3 linked regions of the Homo sapiens genome follow. The protein of the gene in region 3 purifies or fractionates together with the protein of the main gene of each other region. This does not show direct contact. Each region holds a gene or a part of one and is shown on either strand. Other genes may lie near its edges.

What was found.
Region 1: the proteins of LBHD1 (region 3) and STRADA purify together in Homo sapiens (affinity purification with mass spectrometry; 2 studies listed by BioGRID and IntAct, with this or other methods). This does not show direct contact.
Region 2: the proteins of LBHD1 (region 3) and FBXO11 purify together in Homo sapiens (affinity purification with mass spectrometry; 2 studies listed by BioGRID and IntAct, with this or other methods). This does not show direct contact.

The regions. Positions count from the first base shown.
Region 1 is NC_000017.11:63,724,800-63,731,826, forward strand, and holds part of STRADA (STE20-related kinase adapter protein alpha), read right to left. Parts: intron 3,615-7,027; 5' UTR 3,571-3,614; coding exon 3,535-3,570; intron 1,897-3,534; coding exon 1,839-1,896; intron 1-1,838. UniProt on the Homo sapiens protein: Pseudokinase which, in complex with CAB39/MO25 (CAB39/MO25alpha or CAB39L/MO25beta), binds to and activates STK11/LKB1.
Region 2 is NC_000002.12:47,806,420-47,812,525, reverse strand, and holds the end of FBXO11 (F-box only protein 11), read left to right. Parts: intron 1-2,099; coding exon 2,100-2,210; intron 2,211-2,424; exon of another isoform or gene 2,425-2,527; intron 2,528-2,818; coding exon 2,819-2,926; intron 2,927-3,259; coding exon 3,260-3,368; intron 3,369-3,939; exon of another isoform or gene 3,940-4,003; intron 4,004-4,098; coding exon 4,099-4,197; coding exon of another isoform or gene 4,198-4,278; coding exon 4,279-4,408; 3' UTR 4,409-5,606; downstream 5,607-6,106. Other genes in the region: DNA mismatch repair protein Msh6, read right to left, coding at 5,666-5,747, 5,875-6,074. UniProt on the Homo sapiens protein: Substrate recognition component of a SCF (SKP1-CUL1-F-box protein) E3 ubiquitin-protein ligase complex which mediates the ubiquitination and subsequent proteasomal degradation of target proteins, such as DTL/CDT2, BCL6, SNAI1 and PRDM1/BLIMP1.
Region 3 is NC_000011.10:62,662,317-62,669,294, forward strand, and holds the end of LBHD1 (LBH domain-containing protein 1), read right to left. Parts: intron 5,793-6,978; exon of another isoform or gene 5,432-5,792; coding exon 5,207-5,431; exon of another isoform or gene 4,736-5,206; coding exon of another isoform or gene 4,080-4,735; intron 3,631-4,079; coding exon of another isoform or gene 3,195-3,630; exon of another isoform or gene 2,996-3,194; intron 2,901-2,995; exon of another isoform or gene 2,854-2,900; coding exon of another isoform or gene 2,815-2,853; exon of another isoform or gene 2,658-2,814; coding exon 2,533-2,657; intron 1,018-2,532; coding exon 920-1,017; intron 844-919; coding exon 813-843; coding exon of another isoform or gene 734-812; 3' UTR 501-733; downstream 1-500. Other genes in the region: uncharacterized protein C11orf98, read right to left, coding at 734-843, 920-1,017, 2,533-2,657, 2,815-2,853; CSKMT (citrate synthase-lysine N-methyltransferase CSKMT, mitochondrial), read left to right, coding at 3,195-3,630, 4,080-4,735.

The DNA of each region.
Region 1 (7,027 bases), on a different chromosome or scaffold from region 3:
TCCTTTCCTTTACTGTGCATCTAACTAATTCTTTCCAACTAAAATATAAAGAACTCATCATTATTCTAAACTCCCATTTATCTAAAACATAATACTTTGACAAAGTTCACAGATATCACTAGTCCAGAAATTCTTTGAGATGTGTTAGGGAAAATAATAGGTACCACCTAGTAACTAACAAGTTTGAGTTTTCAATTACTTAAACCTATCCCTGACCTTGTGATCCGCCCGCCTGGGCCTCCCAAAGTGAAACCCTGTCTCTACTAAAAATACAAAAAAAATTTAGCCGGGCATGGTGGTGTGATCCTGTAATCCCAGCTACTCAGGAGGGCTGAGGCAGGAGAATCTCTTGAACCCGGGAGGCGGAGTTTGCAGTGAGCCGAGATCGTGCCACTGCACTCCAGCTTGAGCGACAGAGCGAGACTCTGTCTCAAAACAAAACAACAACAAAATAAAACAAGACCAAAAAAACCTATCTGGGCGTATTTTGGATCAGCTAACCAATGTACTCAATCTGATAATCTGTTTTTTAAATTTCCTTCTTATTTTATTTTTTGAGACGGAGTCTCAAAAACTCAGCCTTGCTCTGTCGCCCAGGCTGGAGTGCAATGGCGTGATCTTGGCTCACTGCAACCTCCACCTCGCGAGTTCAAGCCATTCTCCTGCTTCAGTCTCCCTAGCAGCTGGGACCACAGGTGTGCATCACCATGCCCGGCTAATTTTTGTATTTTTAGTAGAGATGTGGTTTCACCACGTTGGCCAGCCTGGTCTTGAACTCCTGACCTCAGGTGATCCGCCTGCCTCGGCCTCCCAAAGTGCTGGGATTACAGGCGTGAGCCACCGTGCCCGGCCGATAATCTGTTTCTTTCTTTCCTTTTTTTTTTCTTTGAGACGGAGTCTAGCTCTGTTTCCCAGGCTGGAGTGCAGTGGCGCGATCTCCGCTCATTGCAAGCTCCGCCTCCTGGGTTCACGCCATTCTCCTGTCTCAGCCTCTGGAGTAGCTGGGATTACAGGCACCCACCACCACGCCCGGCTAATTTTTTTGTATTTTTAGTAGAGACGGAGTTTCACCATGTTAGCCAAGATGGTCTCGATCTCCTGATCTCGTAATCTGCCCACCTCGGCCTCCCAATGTGCTGGGATTACAGGCGTGAGCCACCATACCCGGCCGGTAATCTGTTTCTTAAACTATAGGATCCTAAAAGAGTATCTTAGAATTCAGACACAAAGAATGGGGCTCTACTATTATTTTTATTGAAAATAATTTTTGTTGCCCTAAATTAAGATGACAGTTCCCAAAAAGGCTCACTTTGAAAATGGCCAAAGGGTAATGCCTAGGCCTGTCAAAGTTTACTTCTGAAATCAACAGTCAGGTTTTACAATAGGAAGTTCATATTTTTGTTCTGAAAGATTTTTCCTTAGTTCTCTTAAATCTCATAATTTCTACCATGAAAAAATGAGTCAACTAGATTCATCAATAAAACCAGAACTTTCATATCATTGCTTCCTTTGTCTTGACAATTATTTTTTAAATCAAGGCTACAGACTTTTAAATAGTTTTCTTCCTTTAAAAATATGTATTTCACCTGGACAAAAGAAAACATATATGCTTTTAAGTAAATACTGGCTTTCTAACAATCAAGACAGGCCAAGGAAAATTGCCATGTTAGTCTTCAAATCTTTGGGAAACCATAAATTCAAAAAGGAACCAAAGAAATCCAACAACTGTAGGTTACACTTGCCCTTAGAATTGCCAATTGCTATAGATTGATTTAGTCAACAAAAAAGTAGTGATTTTTATATCCTGAAGTGATGGCTAAATGCCATACTGTACTTACCTCCAAATAGTTCCAAATCTCTTAAGCCCTCAACAATGAACTTTTCCGAGACCCACCGCTAAAGAGGAAAACCCCAAAGAGAATTAGTATTTCTTCCAAGCCGCAACAAATTAGCTATCAGCCTTTAGACAGACAAACAAAATCCCAACTATGAAAACAGAATCATGCAGTACAGTTAGGAATCATTTCTATGGAAAAGTTTTTAACAGAATCTTGAACTAAAAACAAGATTCCTTTCTCCACTCCTCTTTGCCTATTTGATGAATAATTCTTAAATTTGACAGATGAGAAATAGATAGTACTGGCTGTAATAATGAAGACTGTTTTTGCCTTCCCTATATTGGTTCCATCTTACTCGTTCTACATTACAGATGCCTTGGATCACTGATGTCAATTTGAAAACTATTACTGGAATTCATAACACAGAAAACAGAGATGAAACAGTAGTTATTCACAAGACCCTGTTAGTTTGTAAAATGGCACACAACAAGTTGCATATTCTTTATCCACTAGGGGTTCTAAAGACATGGCTGCTTACATTTTCTGCCAAGTTCACAAGGGCCAAACTAGTAAGACCAAACTAGCAGGATCAATCTATGGCTCACTTTACTGGCCTATTTCAAACGAGTATTAGATTTCTGTCATTCTGATCAGTGGTTTCGTTTCACCTGAATTAGGCTACGTTGAAGCAGACAAGGAGCTCATATTTAAAAGCAATGGAATCAAGATTGTATTTCCCTTAAGGACTGGTGTTACACTTTGGCTTGGGGGCATTCTTTCCACTGGGCAGAGTTCAGGCTATGGAGAGATTCCTTTTTTCCTCTTAATTAACAGTGAAGTTTACTCTTTCTAATATAAATTGTTCTTATATGCATAAACATTAGAAAAAAGATTAAGTAACATTCAGAAATAAGTTGCATGATACAGACTGTGAATTGGAACTATAGCATCTTCTGCCCTTACCTATAACTATTTTTTCCAAATCAAAAAAGAAGTAATATCCTAAATTGAAAACTTCATAAAAATTATATGCACTGCATCAAAAAACATAAATTATGCTTTAATATGTAAAGAAAGTGGTATACTCATAATATCTCATAGCACTTATACACTGTTACAAAATTCTAAAATAATTACAACTGCATTTAGAAATTAGGTACTTGATAATAAAGAAAATAAGAAACTCATGAAATAATGGGAATTTGTAAAGAAGCTAAATCTAGTATTGTTTTTGAAATCATTTTATCTGACGAAGTTTTGAAGTATAATAAAATCTTTCATGTTCAAAATGTCTTCAATTAAAACTAATGATATTACTTAGAAAAAAGTGTCCTAGTAATTACAACTTGATTTTGAAAACTCACAACCTCACGGGGGGTCATAAGCAGTTAAACGTCTACACTTAAAAGTATCATCGACTCATTTAATGTTGTATGACTGATATTCATGAAATAAGCCACTTTCTTCTTATTTCTTCTCTATCAGACAAGCTGGTGGTAAATTTTGTGTCTCTGGTCAGCCTCTGTCTGCAAACTCTTCTCAGGAGTGGAGGCTGCACTACCTGCCTTACTTCCTACATCCCTCACTTCCGTATCATTCCGACCCTCACGTAGAAAACCACCTACAACATCTGCCAAAATACACTGCTTTTCAGAAAACAAAAATAGTAAAGCCAGAAGAATAGAAAAACACTCACCCTGATTCGCTCTGGTTTACTTACAAGAAATGACATGAGTTCCTACTGTGTAGGCCTACTTCAGTTTCAAAAACTTAAACCTAAAAGGAAAATAGAAACAGGTTGAGTTAGCAAAAATCTCCTTATAGAGAAATATCTTCTGATTAACAAAAACTTATTACAGGTCTACCATTCAAAGCACTGGACTTCACCTATAAATTGCTAGATTTGTTTAGAGAAACTTTAAGTGATGATAAATCTGAATATACTTTGGCCAAGTACATTATAAAATTCTGTAATTTCTGGCCAGATGTGGTGGTTCACGTCTGTAATCCCAGCACTTTGGGAGGCCGAGGCGGGCGGATCACCTGAGGTCAGGAGTTCGAGACCAGCCTGGCCAACATGGTGAAACCCCATCTCTATAAAAAAAAAAAAAAAAAAAAAAAAAGCCAGGCAAGGTGGCAGATGGCTGTAATCCCACCTACTTAAGAATCGTTTGAACCCAGGAGATGGAGATTGCAGTGAGCCAAGATCACGCCATTGCATTCCAGCCTGGGTGACAGAGTGAGACTGTCTCAAAAAAAAAAAAAATTTTAATTAATTAATTTCTGTAGAAAGAGAAATTTGTCATTATATGGTTTTAAATTAATTCCTAAATTTCTCTTGACTTAATCCCCCACTAACCTTTTCCCAGAAGCAATTACCTTCAGTTATTTTCCATGGTTATCCTGCTTTTTATTTATTTACTTCTTATAGAGACAGGGTCTCTCTATGTGGCCCAGGCTGGTCTGGAACTCCTGGACTCAAGCGATCCTCCCATCTTGGCCTCCCAAAGTGTGGGGGTTACCACGTGAGCCACCATGCACAGTGTTATCCTGCTTTTTAATAATTATTCTTAAACAATGTTTATATGGGTATGACTTAATTTTAGACTTTTAAAATTTTCTTTACTGCTCCTTGCAGAGCAGGGCTAACTCATAGACAATGTACCCAGAGTCAGCCAGTTTTAACTTCCTACTATGGTAGATGAAGATGAAGCTTCTTATAGCATCATCTTCCACTGTATCTCCTGCTCTCATTCTACCAACATAGCTCTGGCATAATTTGGTTAAATCAATAGTCCACATTTATATTATTATGACTATGCAAATATGGTTCAGAGCTGAGGCAAATAGAAATAACTATGTCTCAGCCAGGCCTGGTGGCTCAAGCCTGTAATCCCAGCACTTTGGGAGGCTGAGGTGGGTGGATCACTTGAGGTCAGGAGTTCGAGACTAGCCTGACCAACATGGTAAAACCCTGTCTCTACTAAAAATACACAAAAAAATTAGCCAGGCATGGTGACAGGCACCTATAGTCCCAGCTACTCAGGAGGCTGAGAAAGAAGAATTGCTTGAACCCAGGAGGCAGAGGTTGCAGTGAGCCAAGGTCGCGCCACTGCACTCCAGCCTGGGTGACAGAGCTAGACTCCATCTCAAAACAAACCAAAAAAAACAACAAAAAAAAAACCATGTCTCTTTTCCTTTTCCTTTTTTTTTTTTTGAGATGGAGTTTCACTCTTGTTGCCCAGGCTGAAGTGCAGTTGCACGATCTTGACTCACTGCAACCTCCGCCTCCCAGGTTCAAGTGATTCTCCTGCCCCAGCCTCCAGAGTAGCTGGGATAACAGGTGCCTGCCACCATGCCTGGCTAATTTTTGTATTTAGTAGAGATGGCGTTTCACCATGTTGGCCAGGCTAGTCTCGAACTCCTGACTTCAGATGATCCACCCGCCTCGGCCTCCCAAAGTGCTGGGATTATAGGCATGAGCCACTGTGCCCAGACAATGTCTCTCTTTCCTTATACACCTATTTTTTCCTAGAGTTAATAACTGCCTCATTTGTTCACTTGCTTGGTTTCCCATATAGCTATTATTAACTTTTTACAAACACGCCAACATCTCTGCTATTTGCCTTATCAATGTATTTTTCCATACCCTCAAACCCATCAATTAGAATTTTCTCCTGGAAGTTGCCTTCATAGGGCCCTCCGGTCTCCTGCTACAATCTGGACTAACTGCTTTTTAGGCCAGTTGCACTTAGTTGACTTTTTTTTTTTTTTTTGAGGCGGGGTCTGGCTCTGTCATCCAGTCTGGAGTGCAGTGATGTGATCTCTGCTCACTGCAACCTCTGCCTCCAGGGCTCCAACCATCCTCCCACCTCAGCCTCCTGAGTAGCTGGAACTACAGGTACATGCCATCATGCCTAATTTTTGTATTTTTTGTAGAGACGGGCTTTGCATTGTTGCCCAGGCTGGAGTGTGGTGGCGCGATCCTGGCTCACTGCAACCTCTGCCTCCCAGGTTCAAGTGATTCTCTGGCTTCAGCCTCCCGAGTTACTGGGACTATAGGTACGCGCACCACTACACCTGGCTAATTTTTTTGTATTTTTAGTAGAGACAGGGTTTCACTATGTTGGCCAGGCTGGTCTCGAACCCTTGATCTCAGGTGATCCACCCACCTTAGGCTCCCAAAGTGTTGGGATTACAGGTGCGAGCCACTGCGCCTGGTCTCAAGCTCTTGAGCTCAAGCAATTGTCTGCCTCAGCCTCCCAAAGTGCTAGGATTACAGGTGTGAGCCACTGCGCCTGGCCCTACCCTGATATTCTTTTTTTTTGAGATGGAGTCTCGCTCTGTTGCCAGGCTGGAGTGCAGCGGTGATCTTGGCTCACTGCAACCTCCGACTCCCAGGTTCCAGCGATTCTCCTGCCTCAGCCTCCTGAGTAGCTGGGACTACAGGCGTGCGCCACCACACCCTGCTAAGTTTTGTATTTTTAATAGAGACGGGGTTCCACCATGTTGGCCAGGATGGTCTCGATCTCCTGACCTCGTGATCTGCCCGCCTCGGGCCTTCCAAAGTGCTGGGATTACAGGCGTGACTCACTGCACCTGGCCCTGATATTCTTTCCTTTTTTTTTTTTTTTTTTTTTTTCTGAGACGGAGTCTTGCCATGTCACCAGGCTGGAGTGCAGTGGCGTGATCTCAGCTCACTGCAACCTCCGCCTCCTGGGTTCAAGTGATTCCCCTGCCTCAGCCACCCCAGTAGCTGGGATTACAGGCATGCGCTACCACACCCAGCTAATTTTTTGTATTTTTTTAGTAGAGGCGGGGTTTCACCATGTTGGCCAAGATGATCTCGATCTCCTGACCTCGTGATCCGTCCGCCTTGGCCTCCCAAAGTGCTGGGATTACAGGCATGAGCCACCGCGCCTGGCCGGCCCTGATATTCTTATAGAAGCTCCTTTTCCAACCCCAGCTGAGAATCACTCATTTATCTTGTCACAAAATTTTAAAAATATAGATTTGAAAAAACATGATTAGAATGCATATTTAATAGTATTAAACACAAAGCATCATGCAAAAGAAATTTAAGAGGAAAAAAGGTCCATATCCTCATGTAGTCTACAATAGAAAGAGAAAATTAGTGTAAAGAGGCAGATAGATGTTTTTATCTGCAAAAAAAGTTTCTATGGTCTGGA
Region 2 (6,106 bases), on a different chromosome or scaffold from region 3:
CTAGTAATTCAGTAAAGTGACGTATCTCAGATAGTTTTCACAAAATATAGTGAAGACACACAATACAGAATGGTTTATTTGCAAGGTGTTGAGAAATGGTTCACGCAAGTCAAATCACTTTTGAGCCGTGTTTTGAAAAATGAGTAGATATTTACTGGCAATTGGGTTTGGGAGAGGCGAACAGACCATTCCAGATGTTATTTCACTTTTATTCTTTAGATACTGATTTAACACCTCTGTACCAACTACTATGATACAGATGCTAGAGATATGCTAAATGAAACAGCACATCCATAAAATGTATAGTGTGATGGAGTGGAGCACATCGTAAACAAAAGTCTAGAGGAAACTGAAAGTAAGGGAAGAGGTACAGAAAATTGAGGCTACAGAAGGGGCAAGGCCCAAATCATGAGGTTTTCCATATGCAGTAAGGAGTTTGGAATCCATCTTAGCAATAGCACTTGAGGTGTAGTGGAAATAATCAAGATTAGAGACAGGGACTTGGAATAACTCAGGCAATAAATAATGAGAGCCTAAACTAAAATGATAGCATAAGGGTGTGAAAAGGTTGGGGGGGCAGGGGGTGGGACATGTTAATGATACTTAAAAGGACAGAACCAACTGGGCACAGTGGCTCACACCTGTACTTCCAGCTGCTCTGGAGGCTAAGGCAGGAGTATCACTTGAGTCTGGAGTTGGAAACCAGCCTAGGCAATGTAGTAAGACCGTATCTCTATAAAAAGGGTGGAACCAACAGGACTGGGTCATTGATTTAATATGGGGGTTGAAAGTAAAGTGAAATATGATGGGTGCTCAGGATTCTGATTTGGGTGGGTGACTACCTTTCACTGAGGTAAGTTATATAGGAAATGGTTTCTGGAAAACATTAGTAAGGTCAGTTTTTAAACACTGAATCCAAGGTTGTCTTCTGGAATATCCAAATTGGTTATGACCAGAATGTGATTCATTATACTAAGCTAAAGGAATAGATTAAAGAATTAGCAACAGTGGCCGGGTGCAGTGGCTCATGCCTGTAACCCCAGCACTTTGGGGGAGGCCCAGGTGGGTGGATCATTTGAGGTCAGGAGTTTGAGACCAGCCTGGCCAACATGGTGAAACCTAAAAATACAAAAATTAGCCAGGTGTGGTGGCAGGTGCTTGTAATCCCAGCTGCTTGGGAGGCTGAAGCAGGAGAATTGCTTGAACCCGGAGGCAGGGGTTGCAGTGAGCCAAGATCACACCATTGCACTCCAGCCTGGGTGGCAGAGTGAGACTCTGTCTCAAAAATTAAAAAGCAACAGTGTATATGCAATAGTTGCAAGATGTAAGATCACCCAAAGAGTATGCAGAGGGAAATGAGGGACAGAACCCAGAAATATTAATACCCAGGGAGTGAACAGGAGGAGGACCCCAAGAAGTTACTGAGTCAGATTTTTCCCACTCATCCAGGTGAAAGTTTAGGTCAATAATGTGAAATACCAGAGGGATTAAATGTCTACAGAAATAAAACCATGTCTCACATTAAGACAAACAAGTAGGTTGGAGGGATATTTTGAAAGGCAAGGTGATATTAAACTTTATTCTGAAAGTAGTTTGTTAGAGAAAGAGGCATGATAAGAGTTGCAGTTAACTGATTGGAAACTATGCAGCAGATGAAACTGGAATAAAGGAAACTCATCAGGAAATGATTATAGTAATAAGGGCCAGAAATAAGGGCTTGCTTGCCTGAACTAAAAACAAAGAGGATACAAAGGTTCTAGAAATATTTCAAAGGAATTAGCTTTAATTCAGCAATACTCATTGAGAATCACCTATGCACCTGGCTCTGAAGATGAAGTGCTGAGTAAACTTAGACATGGACCCTGCTATCATGGAGATGGCAGATTATTGGTCAGAATGCTCTTACCTGTCATTGTAGCAATTTTGTTAGATCCTTAATACCTCTGAATTGCTAATAAACTTGTTTTGGCTGAAAAAATAGTCCTGTGAATTTTACCATGCAGTTAAATAAGAAACTAAAAGCAAACCTAAATACCACCAAAAAGGTTAGTAGTCTGTTATATGCATTAGCCTTAATCTAAGGAAATATTTTATTATAGGTCTCCTTGAAGAAAATGATATTTTCAGGAATGCTCAAGCAGGTGTTCTCATCAGCACTAATAGTCATCCAATCTTAAGGAAAAACAGAATATTTGATGGATTTGCCGCAGGTTTGTATTTTCTTTTCTTACCTGTGGCTTATATATAGTTCTGCAAAGTGTTTGATGTGGAGTATATTCATTTTGTTTTGCTTATTAACTAAAATGTGCAAAGTGTGCTGAAGTGGCTGAATGCCTGTTCATTCACTTACAAGAGCACCTAATCAAGTTCTGGATTCTTCTACTCTAAGCCAGACTCCTAAGAAATATTGCTCTTATTGCTTAGTCGTGATTATGAAACATTTATTGGGATAGAATAAATGCAGGCTTGTATTACCACTAGGAATACAGATAGATTCAATTCCTCAGATGAATTTACCAGTTTAAATCTGCAACAGAAAAAGAGATGTTAAAATGGATGCAAATGAAATCCAAGTATCATGTATTTAAACTTTAAGACAGTTAGGTTGGTGCGAAAGTTAATTGCAGTTTTGACCATAGTCATTGATAAGTGAATGTTACTGTTGGTGGTTGAAATAGGTATCTACATTTTATTCAGTAGACATTAAGAGGGTTAATGTACTTCTATAAAAGAAGCAGTTTACATTTGCTTGCTAATTTCAGGTTTTTAAGAAGCAGTATAAAGTGATGTATCTACTTGTTTGTAAATTTTACTTCAGGTATTGAAATTACAAATCACGCAACTGCAACACTAGAAGGCAATCAGATTTTTAACAACCGGTTTGGAGGCTTATTTTTAGCATCTGGTGTTAATGTGACAATGAAAGGTATGTTGGAGTCTGCTATACCTATAAATATATGCAATATGCCATGAAAGATAATCAGAAGCCGTTTTATAACTTGATTCCTTATGTCACTCTCCAAGTTAGCAACAGTTTAAGATAGATTTTGAAAGAAACAGAGCTTTGGTTCTAAATGGTTGGAGTATCTTATACAAGGAAAATTCTATTCTTAGCTGATTTCTTACAATTACTTCATTGGTTAGCTTCATTTAAAGCTCTTAAAAATAGTGGCTCTTCTGTTAGAATAATCCTATAATCTTTGGTTTTTAAAATATTAACATTCCTCTGAATTTTTACTTATTCTTTCTTTTATTACAGATAACAAAATAATGAACAATCAAGATGCCATAGAAAAGGCTGTTAGTAGAGGCCAATGTTTATATAAAATATCAAGTTATACCAGCTATCCCATGCATGATTTCTACAGGTAACTTAGAAATATATTTGAGTCCTGAAAAGAGGAAGACTGATTTCCTTTTTAAATTAGCAATGCCTAGCATTTTTGGCTATTTGCCGGTGTTGAGACTATAACTAACTGAAAATTTTATCATCAATCTACTTGAAGATCGTGTTTAAGACTGTAACTGTGGGTAGGCGTGGTGGCTTATGCCTGTAATCCTAGCACTTTGGGAGGCTGAAGTGGGAGGATCACTGGAGCCCAGGAGTTCTAAACCAGCCTGGGCAACATAGGGAGACCCTGTCTCTACAAAACAAAACAAAGACCATAACTATGGAAAAACCTAATGCTACAGTAACTGATGTCATTCATGTAACTCATGTTGTGTAATGTTTTCCTAGAAATTTCAAGGTAAAGATGTCGGGGTTAAGTGTTTGATATATCCCAGTCACTGTGACAGTTTTGACTCTTCACGCCTCCAAAAATTGTTTTCAGCCCAGAAACATTTGAGAGGCTTTTAAAGTGGAAAGAACTGCCTTTATACAATTTACAAATCATTTCTCTTCCCTCCGAAGACACAGATGACAGGAAAATCACTTACTCCATTAAAGTTCCTTTTCAGAATTAATCTGGGCTGGAGCCACAAAGAATTTTGTTTTGGTCCTCTTAAAGCCAAAGGTCATAGTAATATATAAACAGAATGGAATGTTTTGCATTAATGACATGTTTGAGAAAAGTAATTTAAGCTTTTGCTTTTTAGATGTCATACTTGTAACACCACAGATCGAAATGCCATATGTGTGAACTGCATTAAGAAGTGCCATCAGGGACATGATGTAGAGTTTATTAGACATGATAGGTATGTAGCACACTTGCTTGATATATTACCCAATTACTTTCCCCCTCACTTTTCTAATATTTGGGTTTCATTTTGCTTTAGGTTTTTCTGTGACTGTGGTGCTGGAACACTGTCTAATCCTTGTACATTAGCTGGTGAGCCTACACATGATACAGATACACTATATGACTCTGCTCCACCTATAGAATCTAATACATTGCAGCACAACTGAATTCCTTCCCTAAAGAAAAAGTCCTGCCATTGTAACATCATAACTTAAAACACTTTTTTGGAAGAAGATTTAAAATATTTGCCCATGCTACAGGAAGAGACTGTATTAAAAATGGATACACAAGGTCAGTTGACACTATGAAGCTCAAGCTACCAAAAAGAAAGTGGCAATATATTGACTCAGGATCTCAAAGCTGGGTGTTTTAGCATTACTGTGTAAAGACTTGAAGGGACAGAAGTGAAGAAAATAAGCTGCAATTTTGTACAGATACCAACTTCTGAAAAGCTGGTGTTTTTACAACTAGCATTGAATGCAGTCCAATTTGCAGTAGTAATCTTCAATAGACAAGCAGCTTTGTTGCTGCCTTTATGGACATGGGTACCAATTGCTTTTGTAATATGGTAAAAATGTGAGCTAGCACTTCTGCGTTCCTTTTGATTTTTTTTTTTTAACATGTATTCAGATTGAGAAATATGATTTTAATGCTTTAATCTCATGTAGTTTGTTTTTAATTTCAAGCAAAATCTTACTGTACTTGAATGTGCCCTGTTTTGTTAGCACACCTAGACTTGCTGTAACTGTACTCATGTCCCAGTATGTACGTTCTTTCTATGAAAGAGAAAACACTAATCTTAAATTATATCCAGCAATGTTTCTGGTATCCTTTAAGAAAAGTTAAGACTATTATTTCCTTCCCTTCCCTGTGCAGCATTCAAAATCACCCCTAGAAAAAGTGAGTGTTTTAATGAGACTTCCTAGGAAGGGATGCACTGTAAAACAAAAGTATTCTTGTAACTCAGTTTTGTGAAAGGTAAAAAACTACTATGTTTTAAGTACACTTTAGAAAGTCTCTTCAAAACAAACAGTCCTGTATTTGAACTCTGTTCATAGTTTTTTTTTGAACAGTTTAGACAAAACTGCTGGAAATTAAACCAATTTCCTGCATTAAGCTGAGACAAGTATATATACAGCCCTATACAGTTTCATAGCTTTTCCTCCCCCATTTATGTGTATTGGTGACAGTGGGTATAAAACAGCCTGAAAGTGTATGCATGTACCATAACATCTAGACTTAATATATTGTGGAGTATTCAATAACCATTATGTAGAAGGTAGATAAGAATTAAAAGGGTTTAATTTCCTAGAAAGAAAATGGAAAAATGGTCATTTTTAAAAAATAAAGTTTATTAGATCATAATGTTGTCTGAATTTACCACCTTTGTCAGAAGTCAACTCAAAGCTTCCAATGTAGTCAGTCTATAATTCCTTAATCAAAGTCAGCAATTTATGGACAGCTTCAGCATCTACAGTTGACCTTTCACTAGCCAGGCAAACTTCCCTTAAAATTAAAAAAAAAAAAAAAAAAGTTTTTTTGTTTTTTCATAGTGCATCATCCCTTCCCCTTTTACTGTTTCTTTGAAACTTAAGGTCAGTTAGTTATAATTCCATTATAGTTAGTTAGTTACCGAAATAATCGTAGTGACTGATTCATCTTCTCAAATTCTCTTGCTTTTCTATGTCCCTTTTGAATAACTTCCTCTGGGAGATTAGCAAGCCTTGCTGCATTAAAGCCATAGCTTTTAGGACAAGCTCCCTTAATGAATTTATAGAGGAACGTAATAGTCTCCTGGCTGGGGTCTTCACATTCATTTTCTACCATGCATGCCTTAAGAAAGAAAAATATTAGCGATACATGTG
Region 3 (6,978 bases):
TGGCTCACTGTAACTTCAACTTCTCGAATAATCTGTATCTTTGTCATAAATGGAAAGTTAGAGTATCACTCACTAAGGAGACAGATGAGATCACAGCACACTACAGCCTTGAGTTCCTGGCCTCAAGCAATACCCCGGTAGGCAATCTCCGCCTCCCGGGTTCAAGCGATTCTCCTGCCTCAGCCTCCAAGTAGCTGGGATTACAGGCGTGCACCACCACGCCCGGCTAATTTTTTGTATTTTTAGTAGAAACGGGGTTAGCCAGGCTGGTCTCGAACTTGTGACCTCAGGTGATCCACCTGCCTCGGCCTCCCAAAGTGCTGGCATTAGAGGCGTGAGCCACTGCACCCGGCCAGGCACCACCACTCTTGAGGGCAGAGGCTGGCATCTTGTTGCATTTGCACAAGGAAGCTGTGGGTACTGCTTCCTCACTGTCTTGTTTCCATACTCCCCAATCTTTTCATGACCCATCCCCATTCCTACATTTAATCACACACATCTCAGAGTGCTAGGGCTTTATTACAAATGGAGTTGACTGCTAGAGAGGCCCTTCTCCAATCTTTCTTCTGTACCTTCTTCCCTCCCAAAGACATCCCTCTAGGGGAGGTCAGTAGGCCATTAGGTAGGAGGAAATCTGGAGAGTGAAAAGGGGCCTTGCTTTTGTCAAAGTCCTCTGAAACAACCACTGAGTCTGAAGGCTGGCTCCAGTTGAGAATCTTCTAGTGGAAGAGGTTTAGCTCTCATCTTCAAGGTCCTTCATTTCTACATCCTGGGGGGCTTTTGTCTTCTTTTGCCTTTTGAGCTGTGGTTCACTAGTCCTGGCTGGCTTTGAAGGGGCTTCCACTGAGTAAAGGGAAGAAGGAAGTATTATCCCAAATAAATCCAGGATTCCCCTCACCCACCTCTGTCCCAGCCTCACCTTCCATGGCTGTCTTCTCTTTCTGGGCAAGCCGGATCTGCTGGAGGAGTTTTCTGCGCTTCTTCCCTGACAGTGTAATGTTGGCACGTGCACTGGACCTGATGGGTAAGTGGAAATAAAGAGAGCTAGGTTAACCTGAACCAACTGAGGTCACACAAATAGTTCTGGCTATAGAAAAAGTATTAAATAGGCTGGGCGCAGTGGCTCACGCCTGTAATCCCAGCACTTTGGGAGGCCGAGGCGGCTGGATCACGAGGTCAGGAGATCGAGACCACGGTGAAACCCTGTCTCTACTAAAAATACAAAACATTAGCTGGGCGCAGTGGCGGGCGCCTGTAGTCCCAGCTACTCGGGAGGCTGCGGCAGGAGAATGGCGTGAACCCAGAAGGCGGAGCTTGCAGTGAGCCGAGATCGCGCCACTGCACTCCAGCCTGGGCGACAAAGCGAGACTCCGTCTCAAAAAAAAAAAAAAAAGGAAAAGTATTAAATAAATATAATATAAATAGTAATAGAAACCCTAAATATTTACATTGAAGAAGCTAATGAAAGGACATAGATCGGGGGCGGTGGCTTATGCCTGTAATCCCAACACTTTGGGAGGCTGAGGTGGGCGGATCACCTGAGGTCAGGAGTTCAAGACCAGCCTGGCCAACATGGTGAAACCCCGTCTCTACTAAAAATACAAAAATTAGCCGGGTGCAGTGGGGAGCACCTGTAATCCCAGCTACTCGGGAGGCTGAGGCAAGAGAATAGCTTAAACCCAGGAGGCAGGGGTTGCAGTGAGCCGAGATCATGCCACTTCACTCCAGCCTGGGCAACAGAGGGAGACTCTGTCTCAAAAAAGAGGAAAAAAAAAAAAAAAAAAAAAAAGGACACAGAAAGTAATTAATGGGATGGGAACTCTTCCTCAAGACACAGGAGGCCTTGAAACTTACAAGTGAAATCCTATGAGTGCCTTTGGGAAAATTCTTCGAGTTTTATGCGCCTATGTGTGCACTTTTCTGTATGTAAAAATAAGTTTACTTATAAAAATCTGTGTGAATGTATAACATTACTTGGAGAATGGAGAGCCAACAGATTTCCTGATATTCTTTTTTTTTTTTTTTTTTTTTTGAGACGGAGTCTCACTCTGTGGCCCAGGCTGGAGTGCAGTGGCGTGATCTCGGCTCACTGCAACCTCCGCCTCCCAGGTTCAAGCAATTCTCCTGCCTCAGCCTCCCGTGTAGCTGGGACTACAGGTGCCGGCCACAACGCCTGGCTAATTTTTGTATTTTTAGCAAAAACGGGGTTTCACCATGTTGGTCAGGCTGGTCTCGAACTCCCGACCTCAGGTGATCCGCCCACCTCAGCCCCCCAAAGTGCTGGGATTACAGGTATGAGCCACCATCCCCGGCTTTCCTGAGATTCTTAACAGAATCCAAAACCCAAAGAAAGGTTGTCTGCTACAGGTATTGTGAGAGGCTATCAGAGCTTAGGAACTAACAGCCGACAGACATTCCCCGCATAAGCGTCAGTGCACAAGGTGAGCTGAGAGGTGAAGCTGCTCCGGAGCTCTGCAGGGAGGAAGGAAGACTCGGTGGGGACGACCAACAGGAAGAGGGTCTAGTACTTACGCCCGCTTCTTGAGGTGGTGCCGCGTGATCAGCCCTTGGTCTATCACAGCCCCGACCACCCGGTGCCTCAGACGCCGCTCCCGATTCAACACCCGCCGGCGTTTGAACAGCTTCTTCTTCAGCTCCTGCCGGGGAGAAAGATGCGAATCAGATGGAGTGGGCTCGCCGCGACCCGGGGCCCCTCCACCAGGCAGCCCCGGCCCCTCACTGATCCCATCTCGTGCGAGATAAAAGGGCTCAGGAACGCTTGAGGAAACAAAGTCGCGGCCCCCACACAGTCACCGTTCGGGGCCGGTTGATCTTTCCCCCCGGAGCTCCCATAGTCGCGATTCCACTCCAGTTCACGGTCCGTACTTCCGCTCAGCGCCGGATCCGCGGGGCTCCGCCCCGGCCTTCCGCGGGCCAATCGCAACTCGGGGGCGGGTCCTCGGGCTATATAAAGGAGCTCCGCGGTGCGGGAGGCCTTTCGGAGGGTGGTGAGCTAGTAAGTGTGGTTTTAGCTGTAGTAGCCAGATTGGGCGGCCGGGAGTGGTGGGGGTGCCGGGTGGAAGGCTCTGGGCGGGGTCTCAGGACCCTCCTTTTCTTGGCGGGGATCGGGCTTGTGGTGCCGCTCCCCGTAATGTACGGAGGAAGAGGGAAAGGGCTCTGGCCCCCTCGGCGTCATGTCTTCGGTGCTGGCGGCTTCCCATCCGCTGGTTCTATCCTCAAACGCCGGGACACCGGGAATCTCGGAGAAGGACAACCGAGATCCAGCTGGCTCCTCCATCGGGGTGCTCACACTTTCTCATTTGATTTCAGGTCTGCGGACGCTGTATACCCTCCTCCACTTCCCGCTGCAGCCAATAAAGGCCGTTCCTACCATAGTCTGTGTCCGCGTTCTTTTTTCCGGGACTGCAGAGTTCGGGGAAGCTGTACGCCGCCTTTCGCTACGCGGAATTTGCAGATCTTCCCCTGGACCTCAGGCCTCTCCGGCTGGAGTAGGGTGGACGCTTCACATAAGCTTCTCTGGTCGAACTTACCCGAATCTCCAGATGGCCGCGCTGCGTCGAATGCTCCACTTGCCGAGCCTGATGATGGGGACGTGCCGCCCCTTTGCGGGTAGGGAGGTGGGGGCAGAGTGGAGAGGGCAAGGTGGGGGCAGAGTGGGGAGGGTAAGGTGGGTTCCTCGTGAGTCAGGAGTGTAGTCCCTGAAATTGTGATTCTCAAACCCTACGGTGGGCCGTGCGTGGTGGCTCACGGCTGTAATGCTAACACTTTGCCAGGCCGAGGCGGGCAGATCGCTTGGCCCAGGAGTTCGAGACCAACCTAGGGCAACATAGCGAGACCCTGTCTACAAAAAAAATTAACCGGGCACGATGGCGCCTATAGTCCTAGCTACTCAGGAGGCTGAGGTGGAGGCTTCAGTGAGCCATCATTGTGCTACTGTACTCAACCCTGGGTCACAGAGTGAGACCCTGTCTCAAAAAAAAAAAAGACGCCAGTGTGTATATACGACGTTTTTGCAGTGGCGACATAGACCAAGTGACACCCTCCAACCGTGCCCACAGGCTCACTGGCTGATAGTTGCCTGGCGGACCGCTGTCTCTGGGATCGGCTGCATGCCCAGCCTCGTTTGGGCACTGTCCCCACCTTCGACTGGTTCTTTGGATACGACGAAGTCCAGGGGCTCCTACTGCCATTGCTGCAGGAGGCACAGGCTGCCAGTCCTCTGCGAGTGCTGGATGTGGGCTGTGGGACTTCCAGCCTATGTACAGGCCTCTACACCAAATCTCCACACCCAGTGGATGTGCTGGGGGTGGACTTTTCTCCTGTGGCTGTGGCCCACATGAATAGCCTCCTGGAGGGTGGCCCAGGCCAAACACCTCTATGCCCTGGACACCCTGCCTCAAGCCTCCACTTCATGCACGCCGATGCTCAGAACCTGGGGGCTGTGGCTTCTTCAGGCTCTTTCCAACTACTGCTGGACAAAGGCACATGGGATGCTGTTGCCCGGGGAGGTCTGCCTAGGGCTTACCAGCTTCTATCAGAATGCTTGAGGGTTCTAAACCCTCAGGGGACCCTGATTCAGTTCTCAGATGAGGACCCTGATGTGCGACTGCCCTGCCTGGAACAAGGGTCCTATGGCTGGACTGTGACTGTGCAGGAGCTAGGCCCGTTCAGGGGCATCACCTACTTTGCTTACTTGATTCAAGGCTCTCATTAAAGACATTTTAGTAGTCCTGACCCTAGTATTTCTGTGGGCAAGGAGAGGGCTGAAGAACTGTCTTTGCAAGCTATCTGGCTGCAAAGTGAGAATTTGAGTCCTGGCTTCCACATTTACTAGCTGGGTGCCATATTGCTGAATGTTTCTGTTCCCCAGTTTACTCATCTGCAGAGTGAGAATAACTTGGAGTTACGGAGATTACATACAATGATGTGCGCAATATTTAGCACAAAATGAATGCTGAAAAGAGAAGGTACAATTGGGTCATTCCCCAGTTTCAACTAACTGGAGCTCCTAAAAGCAGCAGACAGGAACTGAATCAAAACCCCTGCGCTGACTGACTTGTATAATCTAGTGGCCTAACCTGTAAGCCTCATTTTTGTCACCTGTAAAAGGAGATTGTAAGAGGATGGGTATAAGGAGCTTCATAAACCTGGATGAGATATTTGAGGGGGAGGGAACAATACTTACCCTCAAAGCTATTAGGAGGCAGGAGATGGGAATATTCCACAAAGCCACTTCTACAAACACGGGAGCCTGTTGAGTCCCAGAAGGGACAGTGGTTGGTGGCTTCCAGACATGCTGTGTCCTCAAGAATCCAACAAGCATCTTCTTCATCCTGGTCCTGCCCCCAGCTGAGTCCAGCGTTAAATGTTCTTAAAGGACTTCTAGGGTCCTGTGGGCTCCAAGCCCAGCCTGGGATGGAGGAAGAGAGGGGACAAAAATATTACTGATATATTATCAAATTACAAAACTAGGCCAGGCATGCTGGCTCATACCTATAATCACAGCACTTTGGGAGGCCAAGGTGGGCAGATTGCTTGAGCCCTGGCAATAAAGTGACACCCCTAACTCTACAAAAACAAATGAGCCCGGGATAGTGGCACAGGCATGTAGTTCCAACTACTCAGGAGGCTGAGCTGGGAGGACTGCTTGAACCCTGGGAGGTCAAAGCTGCAATGGGCCATGATAAGCTGCTGCACTTGAGCTAAAAATTAATTTCTGTGGTATTTTTTGCTTATAAAAAAATAGAGCAATTATATCACTAAGAGCCTAACCTCGCAGCCTCAATTTTCTCATTTATAAAGGGGAAGTACCTTCATTGGGTTGTTCTGAAAATCATGAAGTAAAAGTGTTTAGCATAGTACCTGGTACATAGTAAATGCTCAAAAGAATGTAGCTTCTTGGGAGGCTGAGGCGGGCAGATTGCCTGAGCTCAGGAGTTTGAGACCAGCCTGGGCAATATGGTGAAACCCCATCTCTACTAAAATACAAAAAAAATTAGTCGGGCGTGGTGGCCTGAACCTGTAGCCCCAGCTACTCAGGAGGCTGAGGCAGGAGACTTGCTTGGACCTGGGAGGCAGAGGTTGCAGTAAGCCGAGATCCTGCCACTGCACTCCGCCTGGGCAACAGAGGGTGACTCTGTCTCAAAAAAAAAAAAAAAAAAAAAAGTAGCTTCTGTAACAGTACACAGACGGGGCCGGGCGCGGTGGCTCACGCCTGTAATCCCAGCACTTTGAGAGGCCCAGGCAGGCGGATCACAAGGTAAGGAGATCCTGGCGAACAAAGTGAAACCCTGTCTCTACTAAAAATACAAAAAAATTAGCTGGGCGTGGTGGCGGGTGCCTGTAGTCCCAGCTACTCGGGAGGCTGAGGCAGGAGAATGGCACGAACCCAGGAGGCAGGGCTTGCAGTGAGCAGAGGTCATTGCCACTGCACTCCAGCCTGGGGGACAGAGCAAGACTCTGTCTCAAAAAAAAAAACCAAAACCAAAACAAACAAACAAAAAAACAGTACACAGAGATGAAAAAAGTCTAGAAGAGAAGGTATCGAATATGTAAACTATTTTTAGGTAGTTGGTCTTGGGGTAATTTTTTTTGTTTTTTGTTTTTTTTGAGGCAGAATCTGGCTCTTGCCCAGGCTGGAGTGCAGTGGTGGGATCTCAGCTTACTGCAAACTCCACATCCCGGGTTCACGCCATTCTCCTGCCTCCCGAGTAGCTGGGACTACAGGCGCCCGCCACCACGCCCGGCTAATTTTTTGTATTTTTAGTAGAGACGGGGTTTCACCATGTTAGCCAGGATGGTCTCGATCTCCTGACCTTGTGATCTGCCCGCCTCAGCCTCCCAAAGTGCTGGGATTACAGGCGTGAGCCACCGCGGCCAGCCTTAATCTGTACTTTCAAAATGTTTACATTGCTGCAGGAAAAGATAAAATTACCCCAAGACTGGCCGGCTTGGGAG